5 separate regions of the Homo sapiens genome follow, and regions 1, 2, 3 and 4 are each reported to be linked to region 5. The links are microRNA targets in miRTarBase. Many come from high-throughput screens and were not tested one by one. Region 5 holds a microRNA gene; each other region holds the end of a gene's coding sequence.

Region 1 (4,117 bases), not on the chromosome of region 5:
CGAGGAGGGTGGATCACAAGGTCGGGAGTTCAAGACCAGCCTGGCCAATATTGTGAAACCCCGTCTCTAGTAAAAATACAAAAATTAGCCAGGCATGGTGGCACGTGCTTGTAGTCTCAGCTACTTGGGAGACTGAGGCAGGAGAATCACTTGAACCGGGGAGGTGGAGATTGCAGTGAACTGAGATTGCGCCACTGCATTCCAGCCTCGGCGACAGAGTGAGACTCTGTCTCAAAATAAATAAACAAAAAATAAATAATTAAAAAAAGAATAAAATACAAATCTATTTAAAGAATAGATCTTTTTATGTAAAGATTAGTAGTGTAAAAAAAATTGGTATAAGTACCGTAGATGGTTTGACATTAGGAATTAGAGATTAGCATTTGAAAGATACTGACATGAGTTACAAGTATAATACCATATACATAGCGCTTTTAGCTCCAGTTTTTTTTTTTTTTTTTAAAGAGGTGGGGTGGGGATGGAGTAGGAAGAATGTGCTTTTAATAGTTCTAATAGAAAGTAAATTTTACGAACTCTATTAAGAAAAGAAGGATGATCTGCTGTGTTGCTGAATGTGATATTTTTGGCAGCATGTACTGCTGATATGCAGCATTCTGGTAAATGACAATTATATACCTGAGTCTACTGTTGTAGGCCAGTTTATTTTGGTTTTATATAGGTAATAATCTAAAGTGAATTGAGGAGACATTGTAATTCATTCATTCATTCTTTTTTTTTTCTTTTTAGTGCTGTAATTACAACAATTAACCATGATGAAGTTTGGTTTAAGAGGCCTGATGGAAGCAAATCTAAGCTTTACATTTCACAGCTACAGAAAGGAAAATATTCAATTAAACATTCATAATCATGATTTAAGTGTTATCTAAATTTACCTTATTAGTGTTACCAAATGTAAGTGCCATGAGAGTAAAAAAATGTATTCAATAACTTAATATTCTCACTGAATCATGAGAGAATGTGTATTTGTAGGTAGTACTCTAAATAGATCTCATTGATATGTTATTAAAAGAAACAGTAATAAAAATTTTATCACGATCCTTACGTTGATTTGCCTCTTAGGTCCGATGACCAATAGGTATTCTGTATATGGTAGGGGTTTCTTTCTAAACATTTTTCTTTGGTTTTAAAAAAAGTTATGCAAATTTGTCTTATCTTTAGTAAACTATGACTACATTTATCTGCAATTTTTAAAATTTTCCATATCTTTGTCATTCATTGTGTGTTTGTAAATAAGGCCGATAGAATGTTTCCTATAAATGGTTTGTACTAGTACATTAGTGTTAAACCAGAACTGAAATTTAAACATATATATATATGAGGATGTATATATGGCATCATCAGCTTATTTAGAACTGATGGCCATACCTTACAATCTTGTTTTACCCAAAATTAAGCTATTGGGGTTGAAAGCTAAAAGGAGCACTTTTGTAGAATAGCAACTTTTCTTTTCCTCTTTCTTGATTGTATGGTGGGGTGGTGACCTATTTTTACAAATTATACCTAATGAGTAAAATTAGTGTAAAGTGATAACATGCTTCTACCTGTATTTCTAGTGACCCTTTAGCGGCAGGTATTTATACCTGGTATTTATGATGCAGTATATAAGTGGTGAACAATAACTGACAGTATTGTGCTTGCTGTACATGTCTGGTCTTTTGAAACAGATTTTAGTAAGCATTTTCCAGAGGTAAAACTGTGTCCTTATTCTAATTTTATTCCTAGGGCAAAGTAGACAGGGATTATTTCCTTGAATCTATTTCCAAATTAATATTTTTTTCTTTGGTATTTCTACACTTTAAGGCCATTTGGTGCAATTTAGAAAGTGTTGGCCTCCCTTCCGCTAGCCACATTCAAAATTAACTTCCAAAACCTCAGGAACAGTACAAAGAATTGAAACCCTCAATATGGCAGCACAGCCGGCTGTAGTGTATATTTAGGGTACACCAAATCAGGTATTCCTGGTGGTCTTGTGCACTTTAATTTCTGTTACAATGAGTTAAGAGGATGAGGAAGAAATCTACTTATTAACACTTACTGCAGAAATGTCTGCATTATTCCGTTTGTTTTCTTATTATTTTACCTCTCCAAACATCTTCCTGTGCAGATCACTACTTCATAGTTGCCAAATTTTAAAACACTTAACTGCTGAAATTCAGTGTCAGCAAAGTGATATTACGTTGTTCTGTTTCTAATTAACCTTAGCAAATGTACATAATGTCAAAACCCAATAGTATTTGACAGTACTTATGTATACAATGTTTGATAAGCATTTTTAATAAGATTTGTATTTTTAAATTTAGTATATAATAAAAAGATGTGTTTCAGTGTGATTTGTAGTGTCTTGGATTACTTATGTGTATTTAGTTCTTTTTATAACCTATCCACTTGTAAGAAAGATTTGAATTGGTTTACGTTAATAGATATGGAGTAGGCTGGGTGCAGTGGCTCATACCTGTAACCTCAGCACTTTCTGGGGTATATTTAGATGTTCAAGACAGCTAAGTTATACTTAATTTTAAAATATATGCATATGTGTTGTACTTTGATTAAAAGGTACTGTATAAGTTAATGAAATTCTAAATAGAAAATCTTTATTTTTTTATTTTTATTTTTTGAGATGGAGTCTTGCTCTGTCACCCAGGCTGGAGTGCAGTGGCACGATCTTGGCTCACTGCAACATCTGCCTCCCAGGCTCAAGTGATTCTCCTGCCTCAGCCTCCTGAGTAGCTGGGATTACAGGTGTGCACCATCACACCTGGCTAATTTGTATATTTTTAGTAGAGACAGGTTTTTGCCATGTTGGCCAGGCTGGTCTCAAACTCCTGACCTCAGGTGATCCGCACACCTTGGCCTCCCAAAGTGCTGGGATTATAGGCATGAGCCATCACACCTGGCCTAGGAAATCTTTATTTTAAAACTATGATTTAGTACATTTATTTTCAAAACTTTAGTATTTATATCTTATGTAGTATTCTACCATAATATTAAGATTCATAAAAGCATATGCTTATCTATGACTAAAATGCTATAAAATATATTGTCTTATTGGCAGTTTGCCATTAGTTGTCTGGTCATAAAGTTTAATTTAGGAAAATTATTAGAAACTCCAAAATGTGATGTAGTGGCTGCTGCTGCTCCTGTGTTTATGATCAGCTTCTGTCTCAGGATCATTTCTTGACCTTTATTGTCACAGCTCCTAGTTTTTCATGTTCAATCCATCCCCTCCTTGCTGTTTCCCATTTTTTAAAAAGAGATACTATCTAAGTATCACTAATGCAATTCTTCAACTAATAATTATTGGCAAATAGTAATGGCACACTCCTGATTTGTCCCCTTTTTCACTGTTCATATTGGTGGGCTGGACACAGTACTTTTTTGCAGCCTTCTTCATGTAAAAGTTGTTCTGATGTATGCATTACTTGGAACACCAGTTGCAGAACCATGTATGCCTCATTAATAATTATTTAAAAAGAAGAAAAACTTCCAAAGATTCAGGAACAGTAGAAAGAATTGAACCTTTAATATGGCAGCACAACTGGCTGTATATGTGTGTGTGTATATATATATATATATATATATATATATATATATATATATATAACATTTTTTTTCCCATGACATAGCCTCAGGAGGTCCTGAGGACATGTGCCCCATATTTAGGGTACAACCAAATCACATATTTTTGATGGTCTTGTGCACTTTAATTTCTGTTATGATAAGAGTTAAGAAGATGAGGAAAAAATCTACTTAACACCTAGAGGAGAAGTTATCTGTTTTTTCTTTTTGTTTTTGGACCCAGTAAATCCAGTACAATAAAACTGAACTAAAATGAATTTCTCTTATAAGAAAATGGATATAGGATAGGCCGGGCGTGGTGTCTTAACGCCTGTAATCCCAGCACTTTGGGAGGCTGAGGCGGGCAGATCACAAGGTCAAGAGATTGAGACCATCCTGGCCAACATGGTGAAACCCTGTCTCTATTAAAAATACAAAAATTACCTGGGTGTGGTGGCGCGCACCTGTAGTTCCAGCTACTTGGGAAGCTGAGGCAGGAGAATCGCTTGAACCTGGGAGGCGGAGGTTGCAGTGAGCTGAG
Region 2 (4,117 bases), not on the chromosome of region 5:
ACCAGCCCTGTGCCACTGGCACGCTATCTTCATCTTCCTAGACCCGTTTCTCCTCTTGCACATGAGCAAGTCCCACAGCCCAGCCACCCACCGCTGAAATGCCATAAGGCCAGGAAGGGGAGGGGGCATCGTTTTCCACCCCAGAACGTGGCTTCTCTGATGCTCAGATGTGCAGCCTTGACGCCCCGCCTCCCAGCTGCACCTCACCAGCAGGGTCTCTTGCACCCAACTCCCTCCTCCACCCACAGCCTGCAGCCTGGCTTCACCAGGAACTCCAGGAGCCTTCAAGGCAGGTCCAAGGAGGTGGCTGCTGGGCAGGGAGCAAGCCCAGGCCATCACTGAGGGGGGCCTTGGAGGCAGCAATTAGCACCCAGCTCATTAAACTTGCAGCAGCTCCTCTGCACCTGATCCCTCCACCTGGGTCTGGAATTCTGCTGTTTTCCATTTTCCCAGGTAACCTTATGCAGACAGCAGGCAAAGAAGCCAGATAAAGTGAGCCGAACTGCAATGGGACTGCTTCATGGGCCCCCAGGGTCTCCTTCTAAAACAAAGGACTCAAGCGTTGCACTGCTCCTCAGCACAGCCTTAGACATCTGCCTTCAGACAGCAAGGTGTTCCAGAACCACAGGTACACAGGGGCCTGCCTGTCCTAGCAGAGTGCCCAAAGGGTGACACGGCTCCCTGCCTCTCTGCTGTGCCTGGCCTCACCTGACAGCTCGGCTGTGCTTCCTGCTGCAGTCAGCATTTGGCCTCCAGCTCCAACCCTACCCCAGCTGTCCAACCCACAGCCAGCCTTGGGGGAGGACCAGGTGTCAAGCCAGACCAGCAGGCTCCAGCCAGGAATCCTTTAGCAATAAAGGGCTGGAGGATGTCCACTTGGGGGCCTCAATGCTGATATCTTCCACGTGAGGGGGCTGTCACCATGCAATCCTGTCCCCTCCCAAGGTATCACCTCCAGATGCTCTTAGGACCCAGGGTAGACCCTCTCCAGGTACTCTCTCTGATCCCCTCACCCTGGAGGAGGAAAACCTTACCCAAGGACCAGCCCGGCACACAACCCTTGTCTGAACTCCTGCCGCATCTCTAAAACACCCTGCATTTTTGCATTCTACCCTGTAATACAGCATTTTGATGTTCACATAACCATGCCCCCAAAAATCTGCAGATGCAACTGACAACTCAGGGCAATGCCACAAGTTTCTCCTGAAGCTTCATCTGTAGACCCAACAGAGCCCCAGGAACTCCCAGGAAAGGCAGAGGTACCTCACTTTGAGAGGCACAGAACTGAGTAAGACTCCACAGCAAATCTGGGAGTCGGCAGGGCCACTGACCAAGAAGGAAGGAGGTGTGGCCTACAGGCCATAGTCAGGACCTTTCCTTTCTCACCACTGACCATGTCACCCCACTGCACTGCCCACCCTAATCTGCAGGGAAAACAGCTAACCAGACATGACAGGACTGGATCCAATGCCTAACTTCAAACCCACCAGTCTCTCCTACAAAGTCAAAAGCGTACTTGCCCTGAAGAGCAGTGACACAAACTCGGGGCCTTTTTGTGATTTGGGGGTAGGGCCTGCCCTACCGTATCCGTTGCCTCTGGATAAGGGCATGCCTAGCGAGGGCAGCACACTCCTAGCCCAGCACCCTCCTGCCTCAACCTCCCTCCACCCTCTACCCACCTGGAAAGGCTGTGGAACCCAAGGTGACCCTGAAAAGGTGGTCCTTCTGGCAGGATTGCTGATGGGGCCTGCCCTGCCCAGGCCCAGAGCTAGCCCTCTCTGCCAGGCAGGCACTGTTTAAAACCTGCAGACATCCTCGACAGACATTCTCTAAGACCTTGCCCACTCCAGTAATCCACAAGATTGAGGGCAGACAGGAAAGGAAAGGGTATCACTCAGACAGACTTGTCTTTCCCTGGAAGGCCAGCTGTACGGCTTCCATTCACTCCTGGAGCTGACCTGCCTCCCTCTTTGTCCTTTTCTGGCTGTGCTTAAGAGCCTAGCTTCCCTGGCAGCCTAAGGTCAGGGTCTGTGACTGGGATGCGTGCGGAGAAGGGGAGGAAGGCCGGTGACAGGCGGCTAAGGCAGCAGCAACGGGGGAGATATGAGAGCGGACAGAGGACCCAGGGAGAGGCCGGGCCCTCAGCTCACTGCCCCGCGGCCCCAGGGGCCACCTGTGCCCTGACACCACCTGACCCTCAGCAAACTTCCGCCCAGTGGCTTCCTGCCAGAAATCTAGCCAGCCGTGCACCCGCCTCCCTTACAAACAATCCTTGCCCAAAGGTTAGCAATGTGGCTGCCGTCACCTACGCCCAAGTCAACAGTTGACGCTTTAGTACGGGCCAGGTGGGCATGCGCCCCGTGAGCATCACCGAGAAAGTCTCACAAAAGCCCCTGGGGAGCGGGGGGAGGGCTCAGTCACGTGCCCCAGGCCGGTGCCCCACCCCCGCCCCCGCCGCCCCCCCGCCCTGGGGTTTCTGGTCCCTCCGGGAATGTTCCCAGAAGCGCCAGCCCAGCCCAGCCCGGGGTACCAAGGCGCCCAGGCCCGAGCGGGTAACCATGGCAACCCCAGGACGCCGGCTCCCGGCGGCCCCGCCATTCCTCCGCCCCGGGAGGCGCCCGGCAGACCCCCGACCCCCAGCGGGTCCTTTCCCCTGGGGCCGCCGGGGCGGGGCGGGGCAGGGCAGGGCGAGGAGCGCATGCGCGGCGGGGCCGGCCCCTCTCCCCGACTGGATACTCACAGACTGCCCCCAGCACCCCAGACAGGCGACACAGCCAGCGGTACCACCACGTCATGCCCTCTTCCTGCGCGGGCGGCGCAGAGCTGGCGGACGCCCCGGGCGCCCCACCTGAGCTGCTCATGGTGCCACCGTCAGGCGCAGCTCACAGCCCTCACAAAGGGCTCGGTAGCCGGCCGCGTCCGAGCCGGCGCGCTGCCTTGTGGGAGAGGGAGCATATTAGCATAGGGGGCGGGGCTTTCAGGCTGCGGCGAGGCGCGCCCGAAGGGAGGCGGGTGCTCATTAACATAGTGAGCGGGACCCTCATGCCGCGACTAGGGGCGTTTGAGGGGAGGTAGGTGCTCATTATTGTAGGGGGCGGGACCCGCAGGCTGCGGCGAGGAGCTGGGGGTGGGGAGCTCGTTAGCATACGGGGCGGGGCTCGCAGGCATCGGAGAGGTGTGCCCGAGGGGGGCGGGCGTCATTAGCGTAGGGGGCGGGGGCTCGCAGTTTGCGGCGACTTGCTCCCAAAGGAGGCGGGCGCTTATTAGCATAGGGGGCGGGGCCTGGAGGCGCGCAGACACCTTAGCGGTCAGAGCCTCACACCAGGACACACGGGTGGGGCTTCGCAGGGAGCTGGCTAATGCGCCATCCTCGGAGTGGAATCCTGATTGGATTTTCTTCCTGGATAGGAAGAAGATAACTAGGGACGTCCAGCGGCTTGCTCAGATCAAGATAGAGCCAACCGCGGCCAGCGAATCCCTGCCTTGCCATGGGATGGGTTTTCAAGCCAGGTCTGGACAGCTTATAAGAAAAAAACGCCGGTCAGCCTGCATGTTTTATTTATTGGTACCCGAGGAAATGGGGGCTGCTTTTCCAGAGTCCCCACCTCCAACCCCCTAGCCTTTTGGACATTGGAGAAGACTCTAAAGTAGATACCTAAGATTGGAAAAAGTTCGAATTGGAAAGCACTGAGACCAGGGGTCAACCCTCCAGGGCTGGCCAGACACGGAACAAATGTTCAATGACCCTCAGGTTCCTTCCTTTCCCTTCCAGGACTGAGGGTCCTGCATCTCCGGTACCCATGATTGGAGGGTCCAGTACTGGCCCCGCAGGCTGGCCTGAGCCTTCAGGAAGCCCTCGCTGAACTCCATCTCAGCCTGGCTGCTCTCTGACTCCCAGTAGAGCACCTGCTGCCCATGGAACGCTGTGGTCCTCAAGCTGTGGGTGTCCCGGATCTGAGAGAAAAGGGGCAGCCCAGAAGGACCGGCCACAAGTAATAATTAGCACTCACGGAAGCCTTCGTGTGCAAGGGCTCACAGATTCCGGATCACATTTAATGCTTACAAAGCCCTACTAGGAATACGCCATTACTCTACCCAGAAAACCGAGGTCCAGGGA
Region 3 (4,094 bases), not on the chromosome of region 5:
CTAAAATCCCCATTTCTTTAAAGTGTTTCAAGTCTATTATTTGCAACCAAGAGCCTAACTTCACACACACAGATTACTGATTTCATCAATTGTGAAGGTTTAAGGGATCTCCTTTGCGATTCCTTCAACTATTCAAGATTCCCCTTGTCGAGGTTGTTACCCTGTTTGAGGGGATGGAAGGGGCAGAATATTGCTTAGGTGTTGCAAGAGGAATCCAACCTTTCCTGGGTCACAACTCTGACGGGAAGCTGTGCCCTCAGTAAGGTTTCCCCAGTCCTGGTGGCAGTGTCTGAGTGGGCACTTCCTTAGATCCCCTGCAGAAATCGTACTCATGAGCTCCTAGACGACACTGATTTCCGTTCTCTCCCAATTCCCTAACATGAGCAGAGTGCCTGGAGGGGATTAAGTGTTCAATACATACAATTGGAAAAACAAGGCACTTTCACAGTCTCTTGTTGATTCTCAAAATTATTTTGGTAGTGTTTTGTTTTCATCATCAGCCTAATTTCACACTTGAGGAAATAAAGTTCAGTGATACTGACTTGTCAGAGATCAAAGAGCTCATCAGTGGTGGAGCTAAAACTCTCCATAAGGATATAATACCCAATAACTCAAATTCCCTCACCCACAAAAATCTTTTCAGTCATCTCCCCTTTATCCTAACCACTGACGTAACTCAGATCTTCACATTCCTTTTCTCTTTTATCCTCAACTTTTAAATTCAGGGTACATGTGTAGGATGTGCAGGTTTTTTACACAGGTAAATGTGTGCCGTGGTGGTTTGCTGCACAGATCATCCCATTACCTAGGTACTAAGCCCAGCATCCCTTATTCTTCCTGATGCTCTCCCTCCCCCCATCCCCATCCCCACTCCCAAGATGCTCCTGTGTGTTGTTCCCCCGCCATGTGTCCATGTGTTCTCATTGTTCAGCACCCACTTATAAGTAAGAACATGCAGTGTTTGATTTTCTGTCCCTGGATTAGTTTGCTGAAGATAATGGCTTCCAGCTCCATCCATGTCCCTGAAGATCACATTTCTAACCTTCCAACGGATCTTCCTGCCCAGGTTTTACCCCCAACCTATCTTCCACACCACCACCAAAGTTAAATTTCCAAAATCTAACTCTGATCACGCCACTCTACTCACAGGCTACTGCATATGAGACAAAGGCCCTAACTCTCATGGTTTTCAAAGTCCTCCATGATCAGGCCTCAGCTTGCTTTTGCAGTCTCATTTCTATCACCAGATTCCACTCATCAATTCTTTTCATCAAAACGCTGGGCTTTCCCCCGGTATTCAACATGCCATTTGTTTCTCTTCCATAATCCATTGTTAGCTTTTTCCCAGCCAGCTCTATAACTAGCTCATACATACAAGGGAATGTATGACAAATTTATGGCTTAAAGAATAATAAAAGAACAATCATGCTCCCACCTAAACATTACCAAACACCCTATAGTGTTCTTTTAAGTCTCTGTGCCTCTGCACATGCTAGAATGTCCTTCCAGGCCTTAGTCTGCATAGTAAACTCATCCTTTGGAAGCTAATTCCATTGACTTCCTCTGGGAAGCCTCCATTGACACCCGTGAGGGACACAATGCTTCCCTTATGCCTCTACTATGGCATTTATAACTATTATATTCGCTTACACATTTGTCTCCCTGGTAGGTTGAAGATGTCAAATATTTGATCTCTGAATCTCTGGTAACCAGTTTGAAGTTCTAGTTACACAGTAAGTGCTCAATACATCAGATGACCACACAACCCAGTTTGCCTGGGAGAGTCCTGGTTTATGTCTGTTGCCCTGGAGTAATTATAAGTGCTTCTTTCACTCATAAAAGCATCCTAACTTAGATGACCAAATCACCCTATCCATAAATGTTGAATTAACAAATGACTTAAAGAATAGAGAAAGACTTTCACTGTCAGAATCTAGGCAGGAAAAGCCAATGTGTGGATTCTGCGGCCACTGTGCCTCCTTCTCCTCCTCCTTCTGACTCTCCTGGAGACAGAGAAGATGAGTTTGCACACACCAGATGCTCAATAACCTTTATTGCACAAGTAAGTTGAAAAATGTTAGCACGTTCCTACTTCAAGAAAACCTGGGCCGGGTGCAGTGGTTCATGCTTGTAATCCCAGCACTTTGAGAGGCCAAGGCAGGAGGATTGCTTGGGCCCAGGAGTTCAAGACCAGCCTAAGCAACATAGTGAGACCCCTATCTCTACAAAATTTTTTTTAAAAACTAAGAAAGAAAATTAGCCAGGCGTGGTGGCCCCACTTTGGGAGGCTGAGGCTGGAGGATCACTTAAGCCCAGGAGGTTGAAGATGCAGTAAGCAGTGTTTCACGCCACTGGACTCCAGACTGTGTGAGAGAGCAAGACCCCATCTCTAAAAAAATTAATAAAAAAAAATAAAATCTGGATGTAAAATGTTAATTTATAGTACAGATCAATGTGGCAGAGATTATTAAATATTACCTACGTTTACTACTTGGTTAAATCTAGCTGGTAGTGAAATGTAAAGAGCTGGATTTACTACTTATAGGAAATAAAAAATGCAGATTCAATACTCCTAAAATGTCAGTGGTGACACGATTTTTAAAAAATTAAATAGATGCACTGTTTTTAAAAAAACCTCTTCTCGGCCAGGCACGGTGGCTCACAGCTGTAATCCCAGCACTTTGGGAGGCCAAGGCGGGTGGATCACGAGGTCAGGAGATCAAGACCATCCTGGCTAACACAGTGAAACCCCATCTCTACTAAAAATACAAAAAAAAAAATTAGCCAGGCATGGTGGCGGACGCCTGTAGTCCCAGCTACTTGGGAGGCTGAGGCAGGAGAATGGTGTGAACCCGGGAGGTGGAGCTTGCAGTGAGCTGACATCACGCCACTGCACTCCAGCCTGGGCCACAGAACAAGACTCCGTCTCAAAAAAATAAAAATAAAAACAAAAAACCTCTTCTCAGTATGTATGTAGGTACATACATACACCAGTTAGGGTTGCCCTTGTTCTTAAGGAAAGATAATCTCCTTGAGTTTCGTATCATAAATACAAGTTTTATTTAAACTTTTTTGTAATTCAAGTAAAAAAAAAGCTGTTTTTTAACTACTGTTACATAAAAAGTGGAAAGTGAGGCAATCCATCTTTTCGGCAATAATCTTCTCTTCTTATAATAATGCCATCTTCTTTGAAAGTCCAGATAATTCCAGGCCAGGCACGGTGGCTCACGTCTGTAATCATAGCACTTTGGGAGGCTGAGGTGGGCAGATCACAAGGTCAGGAGTTCGAGACCAGCCTGACCAACATGGTGAAACCCCATCTCTACTAAAAATACAAAAATTAGCTGCGTGTGGTGGCGTGTGCCTGTAATCCCAGCTACTCAGGAGGCTGAGGCAGGAGAATTGCTTGAACCTGGGAGGCGGAGGTTGCAGTGAGCTGAGATAGTGCCACTGGATTCCAGCCTGGGTGACAGAGTGAGACTCTGTCTCAAAAAAAAAAAAAAAAAAAAAAGTCCAGATAATTCCTTGTAAATAAGGTTTTTAATAAATTACAAATATGTAATAGGTTTTTATCCATCTTCTTCCTAACTACTCAATGCATTGTTGCATAGCAACAGTTTTTTTCTGCTTCTTCTTTGTTGGAAGTCTGAGAGTCTGAAATCTGCATTGGCTTGGTTGAGCTTGGGAATTTTTCTGGTACCAGGGGTGCAAATATCCATTGTAGAAGTCAGTAGCTGTTAGTGATTTCTTGAGCATCACTGATCGAACACCAATCCAACCATCCTAAAGGGCAAAATACAAATAGTGAATAGGCAGGGGTGGCAAAACTAAAAAGCCAAGTAAATATTAGTTTATAAAATTTTTATCATGGAAACAAACAAACCAACAAATCTTTACTAAATGCCTAGCTGCAAACAGCACTACACTAAGTAACATGTAGAATTCCTTGACTCTATTAGGTTGGTGCAAAAGTCATTGCGGTTTTTGACACTGAAATTAAAAGCTTATTACCAAGGAGCGATAACAAATGTATAGATCTGTATAAATATTTAAATACAAAGGGAGCAGAATAAAAGGTATGTAACATGAAATAC
Region 4 (4,117 bases), not on the chromosome of region 5:
AGGACTCAACCAGACTCACCAATCACGATCTCTCTGGCACGGTTCTGGAAATAACCTATATGTTTACAAAATTTTGCGGGTGATTCTGATGTGCAATAAAAATTAAAACTGGTCTAGGATAAGGACCGGTGGGGGGCACAAACAAGGGAAGGAGCGAAGGGAACCCTCCCTTTTGTACATGCATGCCATGTTTCTACTCATGTGTGCACACATAGGGGGAAGCATTTTATTCCTTCCCAGTCTACTGTCTTCATAGCCACACAGCTAGCAGCATGAACTCTAAATGCAAAGCTGGCCTGCCTTGCTTTCTGTTGCTTAAATTTCCCCCAGCTTTCCTCTCATGGTAAAATCCCAAACCAAGAAGGTTTCCCCCTCCCCCACCTCTCATCTCACCTTCTGCTACTCCTGAACCTTCCATGACACTCCATTGCTGTGGTCTCCATGGTTACAGACCTTTTTTATCCAGTTATAGATACCTTTCTTTGGGGAAAGGACCTTGTCCTGTTGCTCTGTCTCTCGAGTGCTTAGCTAAGTGTCTGGCACTGAGACAATATCTCCAGAGAGGCTGCTGAGCTGTGTAAAAGAACTAGGCCAGGGAAGGCACTGTGGGTGCTATCCAGCTTTCATTCCACAGCTAAAGAGATCCCTGATAACTCAAATCTGCTTGTAAGCACAGCAAATGGGCCCAGGGCCCTGGCTCTGCCACTGACCAGCCATGTGACCTTAGTAAGCTACCTCATTGAGCCTGTTTTCTCATCTTCTTTATAGGACTATGAGGCTTAAATGAGACAGTACACAACTGCCTGGCACAATGTCTGGCAAATATTAAGTGCTAGATAAATGGCAGCTCTTGCCCCTTCACACTCTGCCAACCCAAGATTAAGGGTCCCAGGGTCCAGCTCCTGGTTTCCTGCATAGGAAGTCCAGCAGTTTGGAATTTCCCTGGTCGCCAGCATCATTAATATAACGAATACTTCCTTTGCTCTTTCAGACAAAGATGATAAGTCAGTTGTAGCATCCATCACCGAGAGTCTGCAGAAGAAATCAAAGCACCTCATGTGAGCTCCAGCCAAGCCCAGGCATCAGGAGGCTGTTATGATGTGGAGTTTCTTGGCCTGTCCTCTGCATGGCCCAGTGTAGGAAGCCCAGTTTGCTCTCTGGTGTTTGTTAATGTAAACATTCAGTGAAGGGATGGGGCAATAAACGTAACTCATCCTTTCCCGTTCCTGAGGGTGATATACAGCAGGGACCAAGGGGATGGATGTGATTGCATGATAGGGAATCCCAGACCTGGACCCCTGAAAGCCTAGTCCAAACCCACCCACAAGGCAGTGACCAGCCTTCTTGTGACTGGGCCTGGTCTTCCCTTCCCCTCCTCCACATCTACATGGCACTTTCCCCCTCCCCTCAGAGCTTGGGGGCAAGTCCTGCTGACTTCATCCTGCTCTCCATCCTGCTCCCTCCCATTTCTTCACACTAGGTAGGTCTGTGTTCAGAGTTCTGAAGTTTGAAAGGATCAAGATCTTCCCTCTTTAGTGTCCAGGGTTCAGAGCTAGAAGGGATTGATCATCCAGCTCACTAAGTTTCAAACTTACGTTTTTCAGTGGAATCCTTCCAAAACAAAACAAAACAAAAAAAAACACAACCTAAGAAGCTACTGGACTTGAAATAAGGATAGGAGGTCTTTGAGCCTGCCTTCTCTCATTATTCCTTCACTACCCCCTTACCAGGAATCTCTGTAAAAACTAATTTGGAAATCACTGACTCATCCAACCACCCCTGAGACTTGAGTCTCCTAAATCACATCCCCACAAATGAGCAACACCTCTACTGATGGCATATCCACCACCACCCAAGGCTTCCCTTTCTACTTCTGGGTTAGGGCATTGTCTGTTAAGTTACAAATGCTCCTGGAGCAGAGTGATGTATTATTCTGCCAGGGCTTTACAACTAATGAATGAATCAGCCAATCTAATCCCATTGCTCCCAGCTGTTCAACTAAGCCCAGAGTCCAGGATGAGGGAGATGCTTGAAGGGAATCTGGATCATTTTGAAGGAAGCAGCAGGTCTCAAGTGGGGAGGGGAGGAGGTGGGCAGCAATAGATGACACTGGGTAACTAAAGGTCACCAAGGGTGCTGGGCACCTGTGCACAGGGGAGTACATCAAGGACAAATTTGGACAGTGGCAAATACCACTCATCCCCCATCCTCCTAAACCACATCCTCACCCACACCAGGGAAGTGAGACACACTCCAACCGGCACAGTGTCACCAGAGCCAGGTAGCCAGCCTGGCACCAAGATGCACTGCCCAGGACTGTGACTAGGCTGTGAGGACAGCCAGAGCCTCTGGCACCATGCCCCCATGCCCTCTCCAAGATAGGCATGTGCCACACAGGCCCACAAGCAGGGCAGCCAATGGCTCTTGATTTTTATTATTTTTCACATGGGCAGCAGAAGATGGAGTTGTCCCATCCTTGCTCCCCTTGCATTGAATGTGCCTTGGGTCTTAAAACCCCGGAGTGTCATTGGAGCCCCCTCCTCTTGCTCCTAGTGTAGGAGGGACAAGGAGGAAAGCACTGTGAGTATGTGTGTTGGAGGGGAGGGGTCCCAGCTCCCTGAGCCAGGCTCAGCACCCCTCAGCAGCTCCCTGAGGCCCTCTCTCTGTGAGACTTTTGACAGACAGCAGGACAGAAACATATAGCAGAGAAAGACATAGGCAGACTAGGAGACAGGCTACACACACACACAGAGAAGCTGGCCCCTTCCTTTGGCATGGTTCACCCTAGCCCTGGGGATAGGATCTAAGGGTAGCGTATGGGACCTGAGCTTTGGGCTTGCCCGAGAGAGAGATGGGGCTACTTGAATTCTTGAGACCCCAAACTCCGAGACCAAAGAAGTTCTCTCTCCTGCCTAACCTGGACCCACACCTCTTCATGTCCCCACCCACCACTTAGAGACTGAGATTGTTCAAGTAACAAGGATAGAAGAGGGAAAAGAAACGGAGGCTCCACTCTCATCCAGTCTTCCCAACTAGGGGCCTGTGAAAGGGGCTCCTGGGTCTGAGTCTTCTCAGCACAGATTCTCCCGTTTCCCTCAACTTTGTGCAGATGAAAAAGGGGAGGAGTGGGTGAACCCAGCACTGCCATTGGTCCTAGGCATAACACATGGAGTCAGACTCTTCCACCTGGTAGGGGAAGTGGGTGGGGGGGTGTCAAGAAGCTGAGCACCATCACCTTCCAGGGGGGTTTTGAAAGTCCTGATAGGGTAGAGGTGGGGAGATGTCTACTTCTGGCTCCAGTCTGATATTAGGCTGGCTCTTTTAGCTCTCAGCATTGTCCTGAACCACGAGTTCTGCTAGGGAGATCCTTTTCCAGCCTCCCCACACGAACTTGCAAATTCCTCAGGCAGTACCTGCTGCCCCAGGCTGGCACTGCAGCCATCCTGATCCAGCTCCTGCAGGTCCCCAGGATCTGGGCCCCAGCCCCAGGAGGAGAGAGGGGTGACCAGACCCTGGCACCTCAGTTGGCCTTGGTCAGTCTGTAGTGTTCCACAGGCTCCCGGCTTTCGACAGCTGACAAGGCGACGAGCATCTGGGCCACATAGTAGGTGGACATGATAAGCGCCCGAGAGTAGGGCACAGGAAAACAGAATTTGTTGAGGGCGATGGTCAGGTCTGAGATGATAAAGAAGAGTGCACCACTGCCAGCTGCCAGCTCTGTCCAGCGCCAGTCTGCCCCGGCCAGCCGCAGCCCTGCCATAGCTCGCCAGCCCATGAAGCCGATAAGGGCCACATAGACCCCCACCAGGTAGGTGAAGGCACCTGAGAGGCATGGGTAGAGGAGGGCATAGCACAGGCCCGACAGCGCTGCCATCACCAGACCTGTCCGAAGAGCCAGTGGCTGCATGCCAAAGGCCGAGGCGTAGAACATGTGGGTCACAGCAAACATCAGCAGACCTGGGGGTAAGAGGGGCAAAGGCAGCTGAGGGCAAGCTTGATGAAGAATGAGTAACAGGGTGGGGGTAGGGATGGATGTGGCGATGGAGTGGAGTGTTTGGGATAACCCAGCAGCTTTGCTTTGGGATAACAGGGGTAGGAAGATCTAAAGTTAAAGACC
Region 5 (4,105 bases):
TCATTTTCGATCTGTTTTGTAGATGGCATTAGCCAGCTGCCACCTTACTCCCTTGTCATCTCAAGGGAGGAGTTATCTGGTCCAGAAAGGGGATCGTGACCTTTCCCCAGATTGGGACAGGGAGTGGGACTGTGATATTCTCTTAGCTGCAGGGTACCTTGGGTAGTAGGCTGTGTAGTTCAGGTAGAGTTGAGTGGCTGGCCCTGGATAGTAGGCAACAGGGGTGGGGGCAGCAGGCACCCTGGCAGCTGGGAGCAGTGCTGAAGAGGGGTATAGAGCTGCCGTCTCCGTGGGAATGAGCGTTGGGGTGGCTTGGAAGGTGGTGTAGGTAGGTGGTGAGAGGCCTAGAGACGGAAGTAGAAAGTGCATGTGCACGGAGCCCAGCACTGCCCTGGGTGGGGTAGCCAGAAAGGAGTCCCCGCTATAGAAGGTAGGGGCTTACAACAGCCTGGCTACCACAGGCCTCCTCCTCCCCTAGCCCCTAGGGCACTCACAGGGCAGCTTGCAGGGTGGAGGGGACATGCCACTGCGGCCCAAGGTGCCCCCCATCAGCACTCGGCTCATCTCCTCTGTGGAACAGGGGACCACCTCCACGTAGCGCTCCTTCATCACCTTCTTATGGCAACGCTGAGCAGCAGCTAGGGCTCGCTCTGCTGATGTCATCTGAATGAAGGCATCGCCCGATGGCCGGCCCTGTGCACACCATCTTGTGAGCAGTTTGTCATGTGTAAGAGTGCCTTACCCCTAACACACACCCCTTCCTATTTATGTGTTCCCCCTACCAAGCAGTGGCTTCACCTGCTGGTTGAGCACCATGTGTACACCGTGGGGCCGAATGTCAGCTGCTGCCTCCCCCAGAAAGCTCAGGATGTCTTCAATGGTGGCCGTGTAGGGCAGGCCTCGGAGGCGTACACAGTCCCTCCCAGTCCCAGGTGCCAGTGGGAAGGGGATGGGCAGCAGTGGGGCAGTCAGTGTAGGAAGGAGTGGGCCGGATGCATAGCGGTTCAAGACCTAGTAAGGAAGGCAGCAACAGGCTGGTCATGCCAAGTAGGGCAGGGACACAGAGGGCCGCCCTGGAGTAACAGTACATCTGGGGGTGGGGAGCCCTGGGCGCTCACCTGCTGCACTTCGGCTGCAGTGCTCCGGAAGAGTTCAATGTATCGCTTACCCAGCATGCCCTTGTGCCTGCGCAGTGCAGCCTGTGCCAGCTCCTCACAAGCAAAGAGGGCGAAGGCATCACCAGTCGGCCGGCCATCAGGATGGCGCACAAAGAGCAGCCCCTCGGTACCCCCAGTCACTGGGCACTCTGGCCCCAGGAAGCCAAGCACGTCCGTTGGCCCAGCCGAGAAGGGCAGTCCCCGCAGCCGCAGGATCACTTGGTCTTCCCGTGACAAGAAACGAGCCACCTCTAGTGATGTGCCTGTGTATGAGAGTCGCCTGCTGACTTCACTCATGCTCCTCCAGACACTCACCCATGCAGGGGAGCAGGCAGGCAAGGGGTGGTGGGGAAGTGAAATGGATCAAGAACCAGGGGAGCCAGGCCCTGTTTGCAGTATACTCACCCCCTGCAATCTTTACAAACTCCTCCCCTGTCGCTTTATACACCTGTGGGTACAGAGAGCAGCAGCCCATGGGTCTCAGGCCTGACTCAGATTGGCCCTGCTCCGCTCCCAGCCCAAAGCCCCACCTCAATATAGCGGACGCCCATGTGGTGCTTGTGTCTCTGCAGCGCTAGGTCCCGCTGCTCGCTGTCCACAAAGCGGATGAGGGCCTCGCCATTTCTGCGGCCCTGGGCGTTGAGGCAGAGTGCTACACCACCCCTGTGGAGCCAGTGCTGTTAGTGCCTCCTGGGTAGGCCTGTCCAATTGGGCCCACCCACCCTGCCACACCCACCTGGCCACGTTGAGCCCTTTGAAGAAGCGAGCCACGTCCTGGTCTGATGACTGCCACGGCAACCCACGAGCCCGTACCACAGTCTCACTGTCCACCACATCAGCCTTGCTGCTGTAGGGGCAGGGCACAGTGCTGTCAGAGCTATTCAGCTGTTGTCACCCCCAGCCCCTGCTCCCACACTCACCAAGGCCCCGTCTCGTATTTCTGCTTTATCACCTCGGGCTTCGAAAACAATTGACCTGAGAAAAGATGGCCTGGGGGTCAGCAGGGTCTGGTGGAGAGGGGTGTCCCCACCAAGTTCTGCAAAAAGTGGACAATTGAGAGAGATGAAGAAATGACAGGCCGAGCACAGTGGCTCACGCCTATAATCCCAGCACTTTGGGAGGCCAAGGTGGGTGGATCATTTGAGGTCAGGAGTTCCAGACCAGCCTGGCCAACATGGTGAAACCCCATCTCTACTAAAAATACAAAAATTAGGTGGGCATGGTGGCAGGCGCCTATAATCCCAGCTACTCTGGAGGCTTAGACAGGAGAATCGCTTGAACCCGGAAAGTGGAGGTTGCAGTGAGCTGAGATTGTGCCACTGCACTCTAGCCTAGGCTACAGAGGGAGACTGTCTCAAAAAAAAAAAAAAAAAAGAAATGACAAAGAGGATTCCCCCGTGGTCTCTTAGAGAAGGTCACAGTGGGGAGGAGCAATAGGCATTTGTCATCCCTGAGAACAGGTGACAGGCAGTGAGGGAAACCTTACTGCTGGGCTCTTTGAGTAGATGGAGGATAACAGCTACCATTGTCTTGACTTCCCAGACCCCAAAGTCATCCTCTGTGGCATCTGTCTCCAGTCCTAAACCTATGGGCAGAGAAGTGACAGTGAAGACATCTTAGCATAAGCACTAATCCTGTTTACTCCTGGGCCCAACTCCCCTCCATAGACACATGCTGGAGACCAGCATACACATTTGTTTTGGCCCAGTTCATGTGTGCACATACAGATTCCCAGTCCAGACATAGACAGACACATACCCACATTCCAAACTCATCCTAGCACAGACACGAAGACACAGTACACTCAGGGACTTAGCAGATAACGCAGTCTTGTATGTGTCCATATTACCCACCCACAGCATGCACATACTCAGACACATGTACCCACAGTGGCTTCTCCACCCTAACCCTGCTGGGTCACAGATACCCTGTGCCATGGTGGCCACAGTGAGGTCCCTGGCAGGGCAGGTGCTTGGATGCTGCATATGGAATTCTCTTCGGAGGTCATAGAAGGAGAAGAACATGTCGGGGAGCACCAGGTTCTGGGGGCACATAGGATTGAGGATGAGCGCCCTGCCCACCCTCAGGACAAGAGGGGTTCTGGGAACCTTACTGACCACCCCACCCCACCCGGTTTTCCTTCAGGAGCATACCTTCCTGGAGGCCTCGGGGTGCAGGACCTGTCGCAATAGCTGCTGCCCATCAGTGCAGAGCATGTAGGGGCCCCCGCCCAGCAAAGCCACATCCCCGTTCACCAGCTGTGAGAACTGGGGATAGGGAATGGGGAGAGAGAAACACACAGATTCACAGCTGGGCAGGCAGGAAGTGAGGGTAGGAGGAAGGAGGCAGGCTGCAAAGCTGGTTCAGCCAGATGTTCAGCCCTATCCTGCCTGGGAATAAGAGGCCACGCCTGTTGAGCCTAGCCCTATGTCCCTTCCCCTCACCCCCCAACCCTGTTCCAGTCCACTGTCACCTCCTCCAGGCCAAATGAGGGCAATCACATATAACCGAAGCCCTCAACACACACACTCCAGGAGTTTGGAGTGGGGCCAGAGCAAACACCTGGAGTGGGACAAGCAGGTGGGAAGGGGCGGGGCAAAGCAGGTTAAACCTGTCTTTGACCGGGTACCACCCTCAGACAGGTGGGGGAGGCCCAGGCCTGCCTGAGGCCCAGAAGGCTCATGGTCAATGGCAGCCCCGCCTCCAGGTCTGACCAACCGAGGGGCAGAGAAACTCCAAGGACAGAGCTCCACACTTGGACATCAGGGGCAGCATGAGCTTTGACCCACATCCTATTGACCGGCTGGCACTGAGCTGTTTGCTCATAGAGGGGGTGGCACTCCTGAGGCTGCCCAGCCCTCCCCCAGCCTCCATCCTTGCTGGAGAAGTATAAACACTAATCAGTGACCCACGAACCCTCCCTGCCAATTCTGTGACACTTTACAACT

What was found. The annotated mature microRNA hsa-miR-6773-5p reads UUGGGCCCAGGAGUAAACAGGAU and lies in region 5 at 2,789-2,811, opposite strand. An mRNA with a match to its seed (bases 2 to 7 or 8) in the 3' UTR can be bound and repressed. Matches are read on the target gene's strand: a 7mer-m8 pairs with bases 2 to 8, a 7mer-A1 pairs with bases 2 to 7 and ends in A, and an 8mer does both.
Region 1: the mRNA of BRMS1L is a reported target of hsa-miR-6773-5p. The part of its 3' UTR that is shown has no 7-base or 8-base seed match.
Region 2: the mRNA of ADAMTS13 is a reported target of hsa-miR-6773-5p. The part of its 3' UTR that is shown has no 7-base or 8-base seed match.
Region 3: the mRNA of MTFMT is a reported target of hsa-miR-6773-5p. Seed matches in the 3' UTR shown: 8mer at 2,171-2,178.
Region 4: miRTarBase lists TMEM86A as a target of hsa-miR-6773-5p. Seed matches in the 3' UTR shown: 7mer-m8 at 3,474-3,480.

Annotation. Positions count from the first base shown.
Region 1 is chr14:35,869,613-35,873,729 of GRCh38, forward strand. BRMS1L (BRMS1 like transcriptional repressor) reads left to right here. Exons shown (of 10, transcript NM_032352.4): 10 at 748-2,351. The coding sequence ends at 865. Among named protein-coding and RNA genes, the nearest start is that of BRMS1L, 45 kb to the left of the region's middle.
Region 2 is chr9:133,458,811-133,462,927 of GRCh38, reverse strand. ADAMTS13 (ADAM metallopeptidase with thrombospondin type 1 motif 13) reads right to left here. Exons shown (of 29, transcript NM_139027.6): 29 at 3,542-3,954. The coding sequence ends at 3,748. It overlaps CACFD1 (calcium channel flower domain containing 1), which reads right to left and starts at 2,950. Exons shown (of 5, transcript NM_017586.5): 1 at 2,741-2,950. The coding sequence starts at 2,861. RefSeq lists an enhancer at 1-492 and silencers at 2,435-2,734, 3,025-3,124, 3,135-3,354.
Region 3 is chr15:64,999,474-65,003,567 of GRCh38, forward strand. It overlaps MTFMT (mitochondrial methionyl-tRNA formyltransferase), which reads right to left. Exons shown (of 9, transcript NM_139242.4): 9 at 2,039-3,783. The coding sequence ends at 3,589. Among named protein-coding and RNA genes, the nearest start is that of SPG21, 12 kb to the left of the region's middle.
Region 4 is chr11:18,701,413-18,705,529 of GRCh38, reverse strand. TMEM86A (transmembrane protein 86A) reads right to left here. Exons shown (of 3, transcript NM_153347.3): 3 at 745-3,957. The coding sequence ends at 3,521. It overlaps IGSF22 (immunoglobulin superfamily member 22), which reads left to right. Exons shown (of 23, transcript NM_173588.4): 23 at 992-1,218. The coding sequence ends at 1,062. Among named protein-coding and RNA genes, the nearest start is that of IGSF22-AS1, 3.0 kb to the left of the region's middle.
Region 5 is chr16:68,230,684-68,234,788 of GRCh38, forward strand. MIR6773 (microRNA 6773) reads right to left here and starts at 2,816; the gene lies at 2,743-2,816. ESRP2 (epithelial splicing regulatory protein 2) reads right to left here. Exons shown (of 15, transcript NM_024939.3): 3 at 3,311-3,424; 4 at 3,085-3,199; 5 at 2,644-2,742; 6 at 2,078-2,132; 7 at 1,894-2,004; 8 at 1,688-1,820; 9 at 1,563-1,605; 10 at 1,119-1,420; 11 at 799-1,011; 12 at 495-693; 13 at 158-344.